2 separate regions of the Homo sapiens genome follow, and region 2 is linked to region 1. The links come from fine-mapping of genetic effects on gene expression. Tissue or cell type: whole blood. Region 1 holds a variant in brackets; the other region holds the start of a gene. All regions are shown on one strand. Distances are from middle to middle.

Region 1 (8,182 bases):
TGGTCTCTTCAAGGAAATAGCCCAAGGGGACTCAATTTCCTATGGTGAGTAGGCAATCTGGCCTCCTGACTTAGTTTACAAGGAGGACATCCAGACTATGGACTGATGCTCAAGAGTACTGTTTCTCTTAACTAATTACATTAATAATAGACATAATAGTAATATTGATGACCACAGTAATAATAGTAGTAATGGCATAATAGTCATAGCTAATTATTGAGGACTTATATGCTAGGCACTCTTCTAAACATTTTATATATATTAACCCATTTAATCTTTATAGCAAGCCTATCTAATCGGTATTCTTAATTATTCTTGTTTTACTAAGATACAAAGACTTTAAGTAACTTATCTAAGACAATTTAGCTAAAGAACATCAGAGCCACAATTCAAAAACCAAAACAGTTTGACTTTGGAGCCTGCACTATTGACTCTACACTTTAGTGATCTCTGCTTTCAGTGTGGCCAGGCAAAACTGAACAAGTAAACCAAGTAGGTTGCAACTATAGTAAAGGAACATGGACTGAGGCACCAACAATAATAGTAGCTAAACGATTTATTGATGTTTACTATTAGTGACCTATGTAACTTTTCACATTCCTTGTCTCATGCCATCTTGTTAGCAACTCCTGTGAGTTAGGGTCTATCATGGAGAAAGACCTTGTGGCAAAGTGGCAGGTCTATCCATCAGTAACTGTCTTTTCTCTTGATGGCTCAAGTCCACCCATCAAAACAAGTTGCACTGGACTGAAGCTTCTCTATATTCACAGTGCAGTTGTTGAGAAACACACCTCAATGGAGAGACCAAGATAATTGTTTCCCTGTCTTGGGTTTGATGTGGTCATGGATGTCAAGCTGGCTTATCTTCCCCAGTCTTTCCCCTGAGGCTGGATGGAGACTCCTCTTTAATTACTCTTTCCTTATGGTGTTCAAGAGTTTCAGCTTGTTAACTTTCATGGGATGGGAAAAGTAGATCACATACTTCTCTTACTCTCTGTTTTTAATTACTGTCATTTAGGTAATTAAATGCCTAGGGCACTTAATCTATTGAGTTCATTTGAAAAAACAGGATAAAATGGGAAGTGTAAATACTGAGATGAAACTTATGAGTCATAAATTCAAGTGTACTAATTCTTCTCTGGCTATTTTCATAAGGAAGACTATTACTCCAAACTACTAAATTTTGAAAAACTAGTTGGAATAACTACTTCAATGGAAGCTAATACTAAAAATGATTTGTAGATAGCCATAATAACCTGTTGATTTAAGTAATTTTTCAGGGAAATCTGCTTTGTTTTTTGGAGTTCAACCTTTTTCTTTGCAGAATACAGAATATCTCCCCTTTCCCAATATTAGGCAAATCTGCTATTTTTTTCAAGAATGTTTGAAGTATTTAAGTATAATTTTGTTTAAAAAGTAGATATTGATAAATGTCATGAATGTGACCATTTAGATTGTTTAAATGTGATCCTTTAAATCAGGGGTTCCCAACCCTTAGGCCATGGACCGGTGCCGATCTGTGGCCATTAGGAACGGAGTTACACAGCAGGAGGTGAGTGGCAGGCGAGTGAGCATTAGAGCCTGAACTCCGCCTCCTATCTGATCAGTGGAGGCATTAGATTCTCATAGGAGCGCATGAACCCTATTGTGAACTGCACATGTGAGGGATCTAGGTTGCACGTTCCTTATGAGAATCCAATGCTTGATGATCTGAGGTTGAACAGTTTCATCCTGAAACCATCTCCCCAATCCCCTTTACCATCCATGGAAAAATTGTCTTCCATGAAACCAGTCCCTGGTGCCAAAATGGTTGGGGACTGCTGCCTTAAATTACTTTATTTTCAGTTTTCCATTATCTAAATTAATGCTCAAATTCCACATAGAGTCAATCACAGGACTTCCAGCAATGAGTTACTCTTTAATGCCACTGACATCCCAACAGAGGATCTTGATCTTTTGGCCATAGCACAAGTCTTGAAATTAAAGTTCTTGGTTTCAGTAGATCAACTGTCATGCTCACTTATCTTCAAAGTCACTTAAGTCTTCTATGTGTCTCCGTCATTGAAACAGACTCATGTAGATTAAACTTCATCTATTTTTATTTTTTTCTATAATGTATCCCTAGAAACAAGAACCTTTATTTTGGAAGTTAAAAAAGAACAGTTAGTAGTTTGCCTGATTTAGAAATAAAAAGTGGTTTATTAATGCAAAACAACATTGCAATTGCAAATAATGATTTGAGTTCAATCTGGTGACTTCCTCATCACTAAGACCTGTTTGTTTATTTGTTTTTTTGAGATACGGTCTCACTCTGTTGCCCAGGCTGGAGTGCAGTGGCATGATCAGAGGTCACTGCAGACTAAGACCTATTTTTATATTCAAGAGTTAGGTAGCCTAATGTGTCATGAAGCAGACCCTTGCTTATCAGAGGATTTTTTAAAAGTAAATGTATAGAAATAGGACATTTAGTTAACATTATTTTATTATAGAGCCAAATGGCAGCTAATCCAAAGACCATGCTATCTTTGCTCTAATAAGCTCAATAAAGTTTTATCCACCCAAAAGAAGAGAATAGAAGGATTTCAAAATAGAAGACAGAATAATATTTCAGAAACTCCAGGTTACTGGAGGATTGAGGTTCAAGTCCTGATAGTTAACTAAGTAAGCCTTCTGTAGCCCTATCTCAGCTTCTAAAACACTTGAGATAAAAAGAACTCCTCTACTTGGAGGTCTTGTGGTATGATTATTATATATTGTACACTTTCCTATCCATTATTGATTACAAATCAAGGCTCAGCTTTTTAAGACTGTATTTTTCTGTACCAGAGTTAAGGGCTCAAATGGTTTTAAAAACCAATTATAGAAAGTGGTGGGTAATATAATTTTTTAAACATTTTTTAAATTGCTAGAAAGAACAAAAATACAGAAAACTAAATAAAACATATAAAGCACAACGAAGTTTTATAAAGTGAACACCCATGTAACTACCATTCAAGTCAAGAAATAGAGCTTTTCCACAACTCCAGAAACCCCTGTGTGCCCTTTCCCAACCACACCCCTACCTCTCTCTTAAAGAAGGGGGTTGTTATCCTGACTTAAAAAGGAATCTCTGCCTTGCTTTATTTTACTTTAACAGTTCACCCCTAAAGTATGTACCTTTAAATATTAAATTTTAGTTTTGTCTAAGTTTTTGGGCTTTATATAAATAGACTCATACAATTATGTGTTACTTTATATCTTGCTTTTTTCATTAAACATTATGGCTTTAAGATTAATCCACATTGTTTCTACATAGCTGTTTATTCATTTTCATTGCCATATGGCCTTATGTTCCATGAGTATGACACAATTTATTTATGCATTTCTACTGTTGATGGACATCCAAGTTGTTTTTATTTTTTATCTATTATAAATAATGTTGCTGTGAACATTCTCATACATGTCTCTCAGAGCACAATATGCACAAATTTCTCTAGGATATATACCTCAGAGTAGAATTAATGGGTCAAAGAGTATGTATATCTTCAACTTGACTAGATAATGGAAAAACTATCTCCCAAAGTGGTTGTACAACTTATATTTTCATCAGCAATGTTTGTGTGTTGGGTAGTAGAATTTTGTAATAATTGCATTATTAGAGTCATTTATTAATCTGCATCATGCCAAAAGAAGATTCACCCCAACTTATTGGATTTTTTTTCTTTCTCTTCTAGAGGAATTTAAAAGTTTTGCCTTAAAGCATCCAGAATATGCTAAGATATTTACAACATACCTAGACCTCCAGACGTGCCATGTGTTTTCATTACCAAAAGAAGTCCAGACAACCCCCTCCACCGCCAGTAATAAAGTCAGCCCTGAAAAGCATGAAGAGAGTACCTCAGACAAAAAAGATGACTGAAAGCAGTATTTCCAATAAGGAAAACACAGTAGCTTTTGCTTGAAATTGTAAAGGCACTTATTGATAATACTTTTAATGTGTTGGTAATGATGTTTAAAATTGAAAGATTTTTAAAACAAAAATGATAGATTTTCTTACTAAAAATGTTTTTATTAACCTTGCTTTTATTGGAAAAAATCAAGCAATATTTC[G/T]TTTTCTTTTGTGTTATATTGTACTTTACTGATTCATTTACTGGTGATACATATGTTTTTATGGATTTTCCAGTTTAATTTGCATATACAAATGAATGCAATGGTCTATTGGTGAGCATTGAGCAACACTGTATAAAGTTTTAAAAATGTAAACACTTTTTAATCTACTTTCCTCTAAAAATCAATAATATTCTATTATTTCTAATCCTTTTCCACTTGGGAAATAACAATGAAGAATCTGAGAATTTGACATCTATAACTTTACAGATTCATTTTTCCATTTAAATTTCAGTTTCTTGGATCACTGAATATGGGAAGGGAGAGCTTCACTAATTAGACGCAGCTTCTTAAGAACTTATATTCTCTTTGACATACATCTCTATTGTAGTTTTTTGTTTTGTTTTGTTTTTTGAGATGGAGTCTTGCTCTGTCACCCAGGCTGGAGTGCAGTGGTGCAATCTCAGCTCACTGCAACCTCTGCCTCCTGGGTTCAAGTGATTCTCGTACCTCAGACTCCCGAGTAGTTGGGATTACAGGTGCCCACCACCACACCCGACTAATTTTTGTATTTTTAGTAGCCATGTGGTTTTGCCATGTTGGCCAGGCTGGTTTCGAACTCCTGACCTCAGGTGATCCACCCACCTCAGCCTCCCAAAGTGCTGGGATTACAGGTGTGAGCCACCGTTCCCGGCCTATTGTAGATTTTCTTAACTACTTGCTAAGGAAATCATATCCTTTTACATGAACTACAGGTTTAGAACTTGGTTTTAAGACAACTGCTATGGCCAGAAGGTAAATGGGAATTGCCTTATTGAAGGTAACATTGATTGCCTAATAAGAAAATGAATTGTTTGCCACAGAGTTGAATTTAATTTGAGTTAGATAGTTCAGAATGTAGCACTTGCCCTATAAATGAATCAGATTTGTTCTATTTATATAATATTAGAATTAATATATTATCATGTAAGTGGGAATTTTATTTTGTTAAGTGGACTCTCAAATTTTAGAACTTGTGTGAAATATCTCCCAGAAAACACAAAAGGTTTCAAGGTATCACCCAAAGCTAGGGAATCAACAAACGTACTTTATTAATGCAAGACCACAATTTAAGCCCCAGGCAGGAATCCAACAGTAACATTTTTCCTTTAGGTTAAGCAGTAATTTTTTTGAATTGTCATTTTTAATGGGTCTCACACATGCATATTGCTAATATCATTCATGTTTGAGGTTTTCAACAAAGAACCAATTTATTAATATAATGTACAAAAATAGTTGGTTCATTTTCTGAATTCAGTCTTTGAAATAAAACTCCTTGTTTTGGCCGTGTTTCTGAATGTATTGGTGATTCACCCCCAAGCTAATTTTTTAAAGTCATTTTTGAAGTTGGGAAGTCTCATGAGAGATGTTGAAGTATGTATTTAATCAAGAGTCATGATTTCAAACTAGTTTTACATATTAAGCAGTTAGTGTTCTAATTTAATGGGTAAATGTGTGTTTGGATAAATATCTGAAAATTTTATCCTTAAGTATATATAATTATTTGCCTCTTATATGTCTTAAAGCTATTTAAACAAGGTGTTAAATGAGCCAAAACAATTAAGTAATTAGAACAGTACATTTTTATCAGAGTGTCTGTCATATGCAATGAATGTATGTAATACTAAAAAATCATGACTACTTTTATCAAAGAAAAACCACACATTAATCCTATTAATCATGAAAGCGTAGCATTGTAAATTAAAGGTTTTCTTTGAGGCTCTTGAAAGTGATCCCATTGCTTTCCTGTTTTAAAAATATTTTATGCTCTTTATTTCCACTTCTGTGAATGTGATATTTCTATTTTGTGATTATGTTACTGAATAAACAAACTTGCTACATAAAATTCTTAGCAATTAAAAAAATTCTGATTCTGCCATTTTGTCTCAAATGTAATATACCCTTTTAATATCATATGTTTACATATTTATGAATGATTAATCATTTTTGTTTGCATTAAACTTTATGAAATGTCAGAAATGATTTTACTCTAATGAAACTCAAATTTTGCCCAAAGTAGCAATATTCTTAAAGATGTTGAATTTTGACTGGTTGAATTTTATATAGTAACACACAAGTCGTGATCATCAATATTATTGCAGACCAGGACTCTGCTTATATGCCTTGCTAACAAAGATTTCTTTCACAGAGGCTTTTCTCCTCTCAAGACTTAAAGTAAGAATTACATTTTATTAAGTCAGTTAAATGCACCATGGCTTCATATAGTAATATAAAAAAACTCTTTGAAGTGAGAAATATTATATCCTAAAACCTCTAAACCACAAACATTCAATTGAAAGAGTTCTGTTGAAGGATAATGACATACTGACTGCTTACAGACCAAGTTGCTTGCATTTTGTATGTTTAGCCCTCCTTTGCCACTGCTTTTAGAGCCTTGGAAGGCTAAGTGTGATAGTAATGCTAGCTCTAATGCATATTTAAAGGAGACTGCCTCGCTTTTAGAAGACATCTGGTCTGCTCTCTGCATGAGGCACAGCAGTAAAGCTCTTTGATTCCCAGAATCAAGAACTCTCCCCTTCAGACTATTACCGAATGCAAGGTGGTTAATTGAAGGCCACTAATTGATGCTCAAATAGAAGGATATTGACTATATTGGAACAGATGGAGTCTCTACTACAAAAGTCTTTGGGTATTTGTTTCTTACATAGAAAATGCTAACATGAATAGAAAGATACTGGTGCAAGACCATTCCCGGGAAAGTAGACATACTTACATTTTTTTCCTTTTCTGCTCATTTGAATGAACTCAATTTTATGTTAAATTGTTATATCAGAGTGACAAATAAGTGCTATGGCTTGATAGAAGTGAAGCTCTTCACATATATTCAAAATACATATCACAAACTTTGGTAAATAGGATAGTAATCTGAAGAACTTTTGCCCTTTTTACCCCATTTACTGTAACTCTTGTTTCTAGGTAATCGTTCTCTCTCAACAAACTTCTCAAGCGTCTGTGTAACAAGCCACATGTTCTAACAAATTGTCTCCATCGCACTTCAACAGCCAGGTCCCTATTTTTTATAACGTATTAACCTTATTATTTTCTTATTATTTTAAAAGAATCTATGCACATTAGCAAAATTTAAAAGATAGAGAAAAATATAAACAGAAAAAATTATGTTTACTTCTACCACCCTAAATCAACTATTATCAATTTTATACATATTTTACTCCATCTTTTTTCAAAGTTTCTTACATTTTCCAATGTCATTAAAATTCTCTGTGAATGTAAATTTTAAAAACTGTACCTACTGTTTTTTGGAAATCTGTAACAAGCTATGTGTAATCATTCTTCTAATATTAAACATATTGTGTCCAGAATTTATTTCTTCTGGTGGGTTCTTGGTCTTGCTGACTTCAAGAATGAAGCGACGGCTCTCACTGTGAGTGTTATAGCTCTTAAAGGTGGCGCGTCCAGAGTTGGTTGTTCCTCCAGTGGGTTCGTGGTCTCACTGACTTCAAGAATGAAGCCACGACCTCGCAGTGAGTGTTACAGCTCTTAAAGTTGGTGCGGACCCAAAGAGTGAGCAGCAGCAAGATTTATTGTGAAAAGCAAAACAACACAGGCTCCACAGCATGGAAAGGGACCCCAGCGGGTTGCCACCACTTGCCCAGGTGGCCAGCTTTTATTCCCTTATTTGGCCCCACTCATGTCCTCCTGATTGGTCCATTTTACAGAGTGCTGATTGGTCTATTTTTTACAGAATGCTGATTGGTGCATTTACAATCCTCTAGCTAGCCAGAAAAGTTCTCCAAGTCCCCACCCGACACAGAAGCCCAACTGGATTCAGCTCTCAATATGAGTTTGATTTTCATTTGGGATCTATTAAAAAATCCAACTCAATATTCCATAGTAGTTCATAATTAGAAATAGTTTGCTAAAACTTACTGAGAAATCTGCTGAAGATTTTATAATTATTAAAATTGGGTTTAAACTACTTTTATTACAGGAAAAATTTGATATTATTATTATAGATTACATGGAGTATGGTAATTTTAACCATAACTTAACGTGAAGGTAATTTTACATGAAGTTA
Region 2 (8,182 bases), 74 kb before region 1:
TGGCAGCCGTGCCTTCAGCTCTACAGCTAATCAGCATTCTCACTCCTACCTGGTAATTTAAGATTCCAGAGAGTGGCTCCTCCCGGTGCCCAAGAATAGATGCTGACTGTACTCCTCCCAGGCGCCCCTTCCCCCTCCAATCCCACCAACCCTCAGAGCCACCCCTAAAGAGATACTTTGATATTTTCAACGCAGCCCTGCTTTGGGCTGCCCTGGTGCTGCCACACTTCAGGCTCTTCTCCTTTCACAACCTTCTGTGGCTCACAGAACCCTTGGAGCCAATGGAGACTGTCTCAAGAGGGCACTGGTGGCCCGACAGCCTGGCACAGGGCAGTGGGACAGGGCATGGCCAGGTGGCCACTCCAGACCCCTGGCTTTTCACTGCTGGCTGCCTTAGAACCTTTCTTACATTAGCAGTTTGCTTTGTATGCACTTTGTTTTTTTCTTTGGGTCTTGTTTTTTTTTTCCACTTAGAAATTGCATTTCCTGACAGAAGGACTCAGGTTGTCTGAAGTCACTGCACAGTGCATCTCAGCCCACATAGTGATGGTTCCCCTGTTCACTCTACTTAGCATGTCCCTACCGAGTCTCTTCTCCACTGGATGGAGGAAAACCAAGCCGTGGCTTCCCGCTCAGCCCTCCCTGCCCCTCCCTTCAACCATTCCCCATGGGAAATGTCAACAAGTATGAATAAAGACACCTACTGAGTGGCCGTGTTTGCCATCTGTTTTAGCAGAGCCTAGACAAGGGCCACAGACCCAGCCAGAAGCGGAAACTTAAAAAGTCCGAATCTCTGCTCCCTGCAGGGCACAGGTGATGGTGTCTGCTGGAAAGGTCAGAGCTTCCAAAGTAAACAGCAAGAGAACCTCAGGGAGAGTAAGCTCTAGTCCCTCTGTCCTGTAGAAAGAGCCCTGAAGAATCAGCAATTTTGTTGCTTTATTGTGGCATCTGTTCGAGGTTTGCTTCCTCTTTAAGTCTGTTTCTTCATTAGCAATCATATCAGTTTTAATGCTACTACTAACAATGAACAGTAACAATAATATCCCCCTCAATTAATAGAGTGCTTTCTATGTGCAAGGCACTTTTCACGTGTCACCTATTTTAACCTTTCCAACCACATAAATAAAAAAGGCCATTATTAGTTGAATCTTATTGATGAAGAGACTGATGGCTCAAGAGAAGTGATTTTTCCAGGGTCCCATAGCTATTAGGGACCTACAAGGCCAAAGGATAGCCTAGCAGAGGAGCTTTAGCTCTCAAACCAGAATCTCACCACCCTCCGCCACCCTCAAAAACACCCCCACCACCTTCAAAACCGCTCCTGCTACCCTCCACCACCCCCAAAACCACGCTGGGTAAACACAGCTAAGGGAGAAATACTGTGCTTGCTTCTAAACACAGCTGGTATTAATGGATAAGCTCCTTACTCCTTCCTACCAGTCTACCCACTCCTAATCTCCTACATAGAAATTCTGGAGCTACTGCTGAACAGAAATTGAAGGCCTGGGGTTTTTCTGAGGCCCTTTCTGGCTCCGATAGTCTGATTGATAGTATATATATTGCTTCTGGCCTCTTATGATGGGGCTGGTGAGGAAGGTGCGTAAGGAGTGAACTCTACAGGTGACCTCCTCAGTGAGCCTGATGTCATTGTTTCTATCTCTTTTTTCTGTTTTTGAGATGGAGTCTCACTCTGTCACCCAGGCTGGAGTGCAATGGCGCAATCTCGGCTCACTGTAACCTCTGCCTCCCAGGTTTAAGTGATTCTCCTGCCTCAGCCTCCCAAGTAGCTGGGATTACAGGTGCACGCCACCATACCCAGCTAATTTGTTTTGTATTTTGGTAGAGACAGGTATCACCGTGTTGCCCAGGCTGGTCTCGAACTCCTGAGATCAGGCAATCCACCCATCTCGGCCTCCCAAAGTGCTAGGATTATTGGTGTGAGCCACCACTCTCGGCCCCATCTTTTCTATCTTTTATCCTCCCATGGCCTGTCCCCTTGACTCAGATTCTTTTTGTTTCTTCTTCTTCTTTTTTTTTCTTTTTTGAGACAGTGTCTTTCTCTGTCACCCAGGCTGGAGTGCAATGGCATGATCATAGCTCACTGCAGACTTGATCTTCTGGGCTCAAGCAATCCTCCCACTTCAGCCTCCTGAGTAGCTGGGACTGCAGGCATGCAACAGCACAGCCAGCTAATTTTTAATTTTTTTTAGAGATGGTGGAGTCTCTCTTTGTTGCCCAGGCTGGTCTCGAACTCCTGGGCTCAAGGGATCCACCCTCCTCAGCCCCCAAAGTGCTAGGATTACAGGCGTGAGCCACTGCACCTGGCCTGGCTTAGGTTGTTGACAGTTGGAAAGACATCTTTCTGTGCAGGTATCTGGCTAAAGAGTCTCAAGGGTCTGCCAGTCCCAACTTGAAGACCCCCTAGACTGGGGAATCTTCTATCATGGCTGTAATGCACTGTTATTAATGTTCCCTGTTACACTGAGAGAAAAGTCAGTGGCTCCACAACATAATAATGCTTAAAACATGCCATTTCTTCAGTGTTTCTCTATGAACACTACACATGCATTATTTTATTTAATCCTTGCTACAATTCTATGGAGTTAGAATGAATCTCCCATTCCTAGACAAGGAAGCAAACTCAGGTTAAGTGACTGACTCAAGGCCACACATCTATGTGGTAGGGCTGGAAGATTCTGACATTCAGAGGGTAACTTTGGAGAACCCCAGGGCTCAGACTCAGATTTTCATCCTGGCCTTCCTACCTGCTGTGAGAAGAGTTGATCAGTTGGGATGAGTTGATTATCATCTCCTTCCTTTAACTCTCAGCCACTCAGGGTTGATCAACTGTCCTCAGATAATGGGACAAACCCCTGCCCTCCCACCCCCACGAGCACCCACATAGGTCCAAACAGGCTTGAACTTCCTCAGTGTGAAAGGGAGCCACAGCCCAATACATTTCCCTTTTCTGGGTCAGGTTCCTCATCTAGCGTGGAGGGCAACTGTAATTTTTGCCTTTTCTGGTAATAGTAGCTCAGTTTTCCTCTGGAGAACCATCTCTCCCCTGTCAGTCCATTATGTTTTGAGTGAAACAAATTCCACTCCTAGTGCCATCATGGGTGTATTAATATTAGCTCACTTAATGGAACAGCCCAGGGGAAGTGGTTGCTCAATGGCATTACTGGATCCAGGTTAGGATTATCTGAGAATACATTTATCTGCATTTTACGGAAGGCAACCGAGGTTCATAGAGATAGTGATTTGGCCAGCGTCACAGGCCCAGTAAAAGGGATTGAAAATCCAGGTCCGTCCGACCCTAAAGCAGGGAACTCTGCCTAGTGTCTCGCTGTGGAATGTTAGGGATCCTGGGGTACCCTTCAGGGTCTTGGCTCGGAAGGAAAACATTCCCCTCCGAGGGGATGGACTATATTACCAAGGGGGTGGAGCCAGATGCCTGAGGGGGTGTGGCCAGAGCCTGGGGCGTGTCACAGCCGAAGGGGCAGGGCGGCAGCAGCAGGCGTCTAAGTAACTTCAGCGCCTGCGCAGAGGCTCCCCAGCGTCGCCCTAGGCTGGGACTCTAGTAGGTCTTCGGCTCAGTTTTGGCTGCAGCGCCCGCGTAGATCGCTTCGGCCGGGTTCTACGCCCGGCTCAACTATGAGCCGGTGCGCCCAGGCGGCGGAAGTGGCGGCCACAGTGCCAGGTGCCGGCGTCGGGAACGTGGGGCTGCGGCCGCCCATGGTGCCCCGTCAGGCGTCCTTCTTCCCGCCGCCGGTGCCGAACCCCTTCGTGCAGCAGACGCAGATCGGCTCCGCGAGGCGGGTCCAGGTGAGGGGCGTGGGTCTGAGGGGAGAGGTGGTCTGAGGGGGGCCTAGGTCAGAGGGGGGTCCAGGTAAGGGGTGTGGGTCTGAGAGAGGAGGGCGGCCGAGGGGGGCGTGGGTCTGAGGGAGTGAGGTGGTCCGAGGCGGGCGAGAGTCTGAGGAGGGAGGTGGCCTGAAGGGGGCATGGGTCTGAGGAGGGAGGTGGCCCGAGGGGAGCCAGGGTCTGGGGCGGGTCCAGGTGACTGGTGTAGGTCTGACGGGGGAGGGCGGTCGAGGGGCGCGTGGGTCTGAGGGGCGTTGTGGGTCTGGGAAGCAAAGGCATCAGAGGAAGAAAGAGCAGTGGATCTGAGAGGAGAGGACTTCTGAGGGGCCGTGAGCCTGAAAGGGGCGGAGATGTGTGTCTGAGAATTGAGGACATTTAGAGGATGGTCTGAGCGGGCACGGGAGGAGAGAAGATGCTGGGAAGATGCGGGCCTGAGAGGAGAATCCAAAACAGGAAGAGACTGAGCTGGCTGGTGGCGCAGGCTACATTCCATGCCCCAGAAGGTTGAAGGAATCTGTGAATCTGTGACAGAAGCTTCAACTTGAGTTTATGAGAGTGTAGTGGGAGGCAGATCTACTACGGGAGAGTAGATTTGAAGAAGTCTTTTTTTTTTTTTTTTTGCCTTAGGAAGGAGAGGAGTCAGTATGGGATGGATAAGAGTGAGGCAGAAGGCAGAGAGCCTAGGTCTGTGGTTAGAACAACAGGTAAGGCTGGAAAGATTTAGCTGAGCAGGAGCATGATGGAGGGTGGGAAGTCAGAATCAAAGAAAAGGGACAACTGAGTCAGCTTAGGATGTTCAAGAAGTTTTGGTCCAGAATCAGTCTTCACCTAAAAACGTTTCCTAAGTTGAAGCATGAGAAGTAGTAGCCCAGGCTGTTTTCCATTGTTAAAAATGGCTATACTGTTATGCACAAAGGAAGTTTCCTTTCCTTTCCTTTTTCTTGTAAAGGGTTCCTTTTACCATTGGCAGTTGCACTCTTTGGACTTCCTCTTTGTTGAAGTTAGTGATCAGAGAACAAGATAGACCCTGCTAACCACATTTGTCCGTGTGTTCTGCGGGGGTTGGGGGGGTGGGGGAACAATTTTGAAGTTTTCATGTCCATCTCACACATTACTTTGGATTTGAAGCAGTATAATATTTGCAATCAGCTTGTATGCACTAAGACCATTGTCCTCTACAGTGGGGGAAGGTTAAGTGCAGAGCTAAACAACACAGGTGGTGGCTTGAGTAATGGTAGATGGGTGTCTGGTTGAAGAGGGGTGTGAGAGAGGAAGAAGATAAAGAATGTAGTAATACTGCTTTGTGAGGAAATTAAACGTTTAAAAATGTGATCCTCATGTCTTTAAATTAATAGATATTCTTTTTGTGTCTTCACATTCTGAAACATTTGTAAATACATAGACCATTGTTCAAGATTAAATTTAGTCTGATTTAATTAAATCATACTTAAATGAAAATATGCCCATCTATTTGACTTCATATTTTGGAAAGAAACAGCATGGAATGTTGACAAATATTTATATTGCACCTATAATAAATTATTAAGTTTTTCCATCACCTGGTTTGTTACTGTTTAAAGATCTCTTCCAAATAACTCTCTGAGAGTTATAGTATAATGGAATGATAGCTAGTCAGTTATAGGAACTGGTCATTTATTAGTTGTATGACTTTGGCCAAGTCACTTAACCTCTCTGAACTATACTTTTCTCGTCTATTACATTGGAATATTAATAACTCAAAGGAGGGCTACAATTAAGTGAAATAATCTGTTATTGTTTGTTGATCTTAATATTGATAATATTGATAGTTATCCTATATATTTTCTACAAAGTATATACTGTACTTAAAATTTACTACTTGGATTAAATGGGATTTAACAAAGTCTGGATATTAAAAATACTTTTTAAATTTATATAGATCAGAGATACAAGAGGTTTCAGTGGCTTGAATCATCTGGGTAAAGGGAAGATTTGAATAGGCATGGTAGAAAAACAATGTCCATATTATCCAGTTTAAAAGGTGGACACACTTTCATTTAAGTATGACTTAGTATGATTAATTTAGACTAAGTTTAATCTTAAATGATGATCAATGTCTTGCTTAAGGACTGTTGTCCTCACATTTCACTAAGATAGTTAAACAAACAAGTACAAAAATATATAATCTCATGTTTTAGTAAGTGTAATGAAGGAAAACCAGAGAATAACACTGAGAGAAGGCCACCCAATGGAGATGACATATTACCAAATGGAAATATGATGAATTCTCTTAATTTGTCAATGAGTTAACTCAAAATTGATTTACTGTTAGACACTATTATTTGTTGCAAACCTTGAAGATGGCACAGAAAAAAAAGTTGCCTAATATTTTGCAACTTGTTCAATTAAAATCCATATGGGTTGCTCAGTGTAGACATGAGTGACTCTTATGCTAATATACTTTAAACTCATTCCAACTCTTTCTTCAGGGTCTATGCTATATGGTCCTTTCTTTCAGTCAAGATTATTGCTTGTTTTTTAATAATGATACCTCTTTGAAGAGAATCTCAGCCAGTGACCTACCAGAGTGACTTGGGAATTTGAGTCGTCTCATCTTCTCCACAGTACTCTTCCCCAGTATACCACCATACTTCATTGCACCACCATTCAAATAAATATAACATTAGCTAAAAATAGTGTGCTTACCATGTACACAGAGCTTCAAGAAAAATCTCCTGGATCCAAGATCCCTTCTATATTATAGTTCTGAAACTCCTACTCATCTTACCTAATACGTATTCTGTTTTATAGGAAATAAGACTGATAGCATAAGTTTCATTATATTTGTAAGTCAGTTTTCAAGTGAATAATAATAATTTAACAGGACTAGTTTTAGTCTCAGGAATGGTGGAGTAGCTCAATGTAGACAATGTAGACAAACAATTATAAACCCTAGTCAAAATATGAAAAACTACACGAAGGCACTATAGAGCAACACAAATCAGACAGAAACTGGAGGGATTTGTTTCTTGAAATAATACTTCTATACTGTGTAACATTACCCCAGCCCCTTTTTTTCCCTGAAGGTTATCACTTGACACCACATGAAGGGATTGCTAGAAAGCCTCAGCCTTATTGATTGACATGATATATCAGAGCACAAAGTTCAAGACTATCAAAGTGACTAAAAATCGAAGGTGGAAGTCCCAGAAAGGAGGAAACTAGAAATGAGGGAGCCCCTAAATTGGCATATAAATGATCTCAAAACCTTGGCCGATTCCTGAGCTGTGTATTTACAAAGGAGCCTTCAAGGACTCTGGAGGAAAGTAACAGCTGGAAGGAAGAAGAAACTGAGCAGACATTTCAACTGATAGACACCACAGGGAAGGCACAGTTAGAATCCCACCAATTAAGGGGGCCTTGGCAAACATCTCAGGCTTTACACTGAAACCTCACAAAGGTGATACCATAGGAGAAAAGCTAGTCCTATACCCTAGGACTAAGGCTTCAGTCTAAGACTAAGGGCTAGCTTCAAACAAATTTTCCCTAAAAAAGTATAAAACTAAGCCTTCACAAAGTGAATGCAATCAGCCAGAATTTTACCTACCTGCCAGGACAGAAATCAACATTCTTTAGAAAAGGATAACAGAATCCAGAATATCTGTAATATATCACCCAAAATGGCCAAAATACTATAAAAACTGTACTAGACATTCAAAGAAATAGGAAAATGTGACCTGTGATCAAAAGAAAAATCAGGCAATAAAAACAGACCCTAAGATGATCAAATGTAGGACTTCGCAGAAAAATACTTGAAAGGAGCTATTATAAAAATGCTCAAGGACTTAAAAGTAAAGAATGGCATAATGAATGAATAGTTGGAAGGAGCTTAGCAGAGAAATAGAAAATGTAAAAGAGAACCAAATGGGCATTCAAAACTGAAAACTGTTATATCTGAAATGAAAAATTCACTGGATGGGCTCAACAACACATTGAAGATGGTAGAAGAAGGTGTTAGTGAACTTGAAGATAGGTCACTAGAAATTATTCAGTCTAAAAAGCAGAATGAAAAAAACTGAGATGAGACATCAGCAAAACTGATGAAGTAAAGGCCTCTGAAAATTATCTTCTCTATAAAAGCAATGAAAACAAAAAAAAAAAATCAGAATCAACTTTGTCTTAGCTCTGAAAATTAACCAAAGGCTTTCAACAATCCAAGGAGCATTTATTTAAGAGTGCTGACTCTTAGTTAGAATAGTAGGCTTCGTTACAGTTTAATTTTATTCTAATTCCTCATCCTCAGCTCTGTAGTAGCCTTAAAAACCAACGGCCTACAGTCATA

What was found. PIP is the estimated chance that this variant, and not a neighbour inherited with it, causes the effect.
Region 2: LPCAT2 starts here. The variant in region 1 is fine-mapped to the expression of LPCAT2 in whole blood (TOPMed, PIP 0.95).

What each region holds. Positions count from the first base shown.
Region 1 is chr16:55,579,201-55,587,382 of GRCh38, forward strand. LPCAT2 (lysophosphatidylcholine acyltransferase 2) reads left to right here. Exons shown (of 14, transcript NM_017839.5): 13 at 1-44; 14 at 3,714-7,466. The coding sequence ends at 3,898. Among named protein-coding and RNA genes, the nearest start is that of CAPNS2, 17 kb to the left of the region's middle. The variant G/T (reference allele first, on the strand shown) is at 4,090.
Region 2 is chr16:55,505,528-55,513,709 of GRCh38, forward strand. LPCAT2 (lysophosphatidylcholine acyltransferase 2) reads left to right here and starts at 3,545. Exons shown (of 14, transcript NM_017839.5): 1 at 3,545-3,825. The coding sequence starts at 3,655. MMP2 (matrix metallopeptidase 2) reads left to right here. Exons shown (of 13, transcript NM_004530.6): 13 at 1-1,164.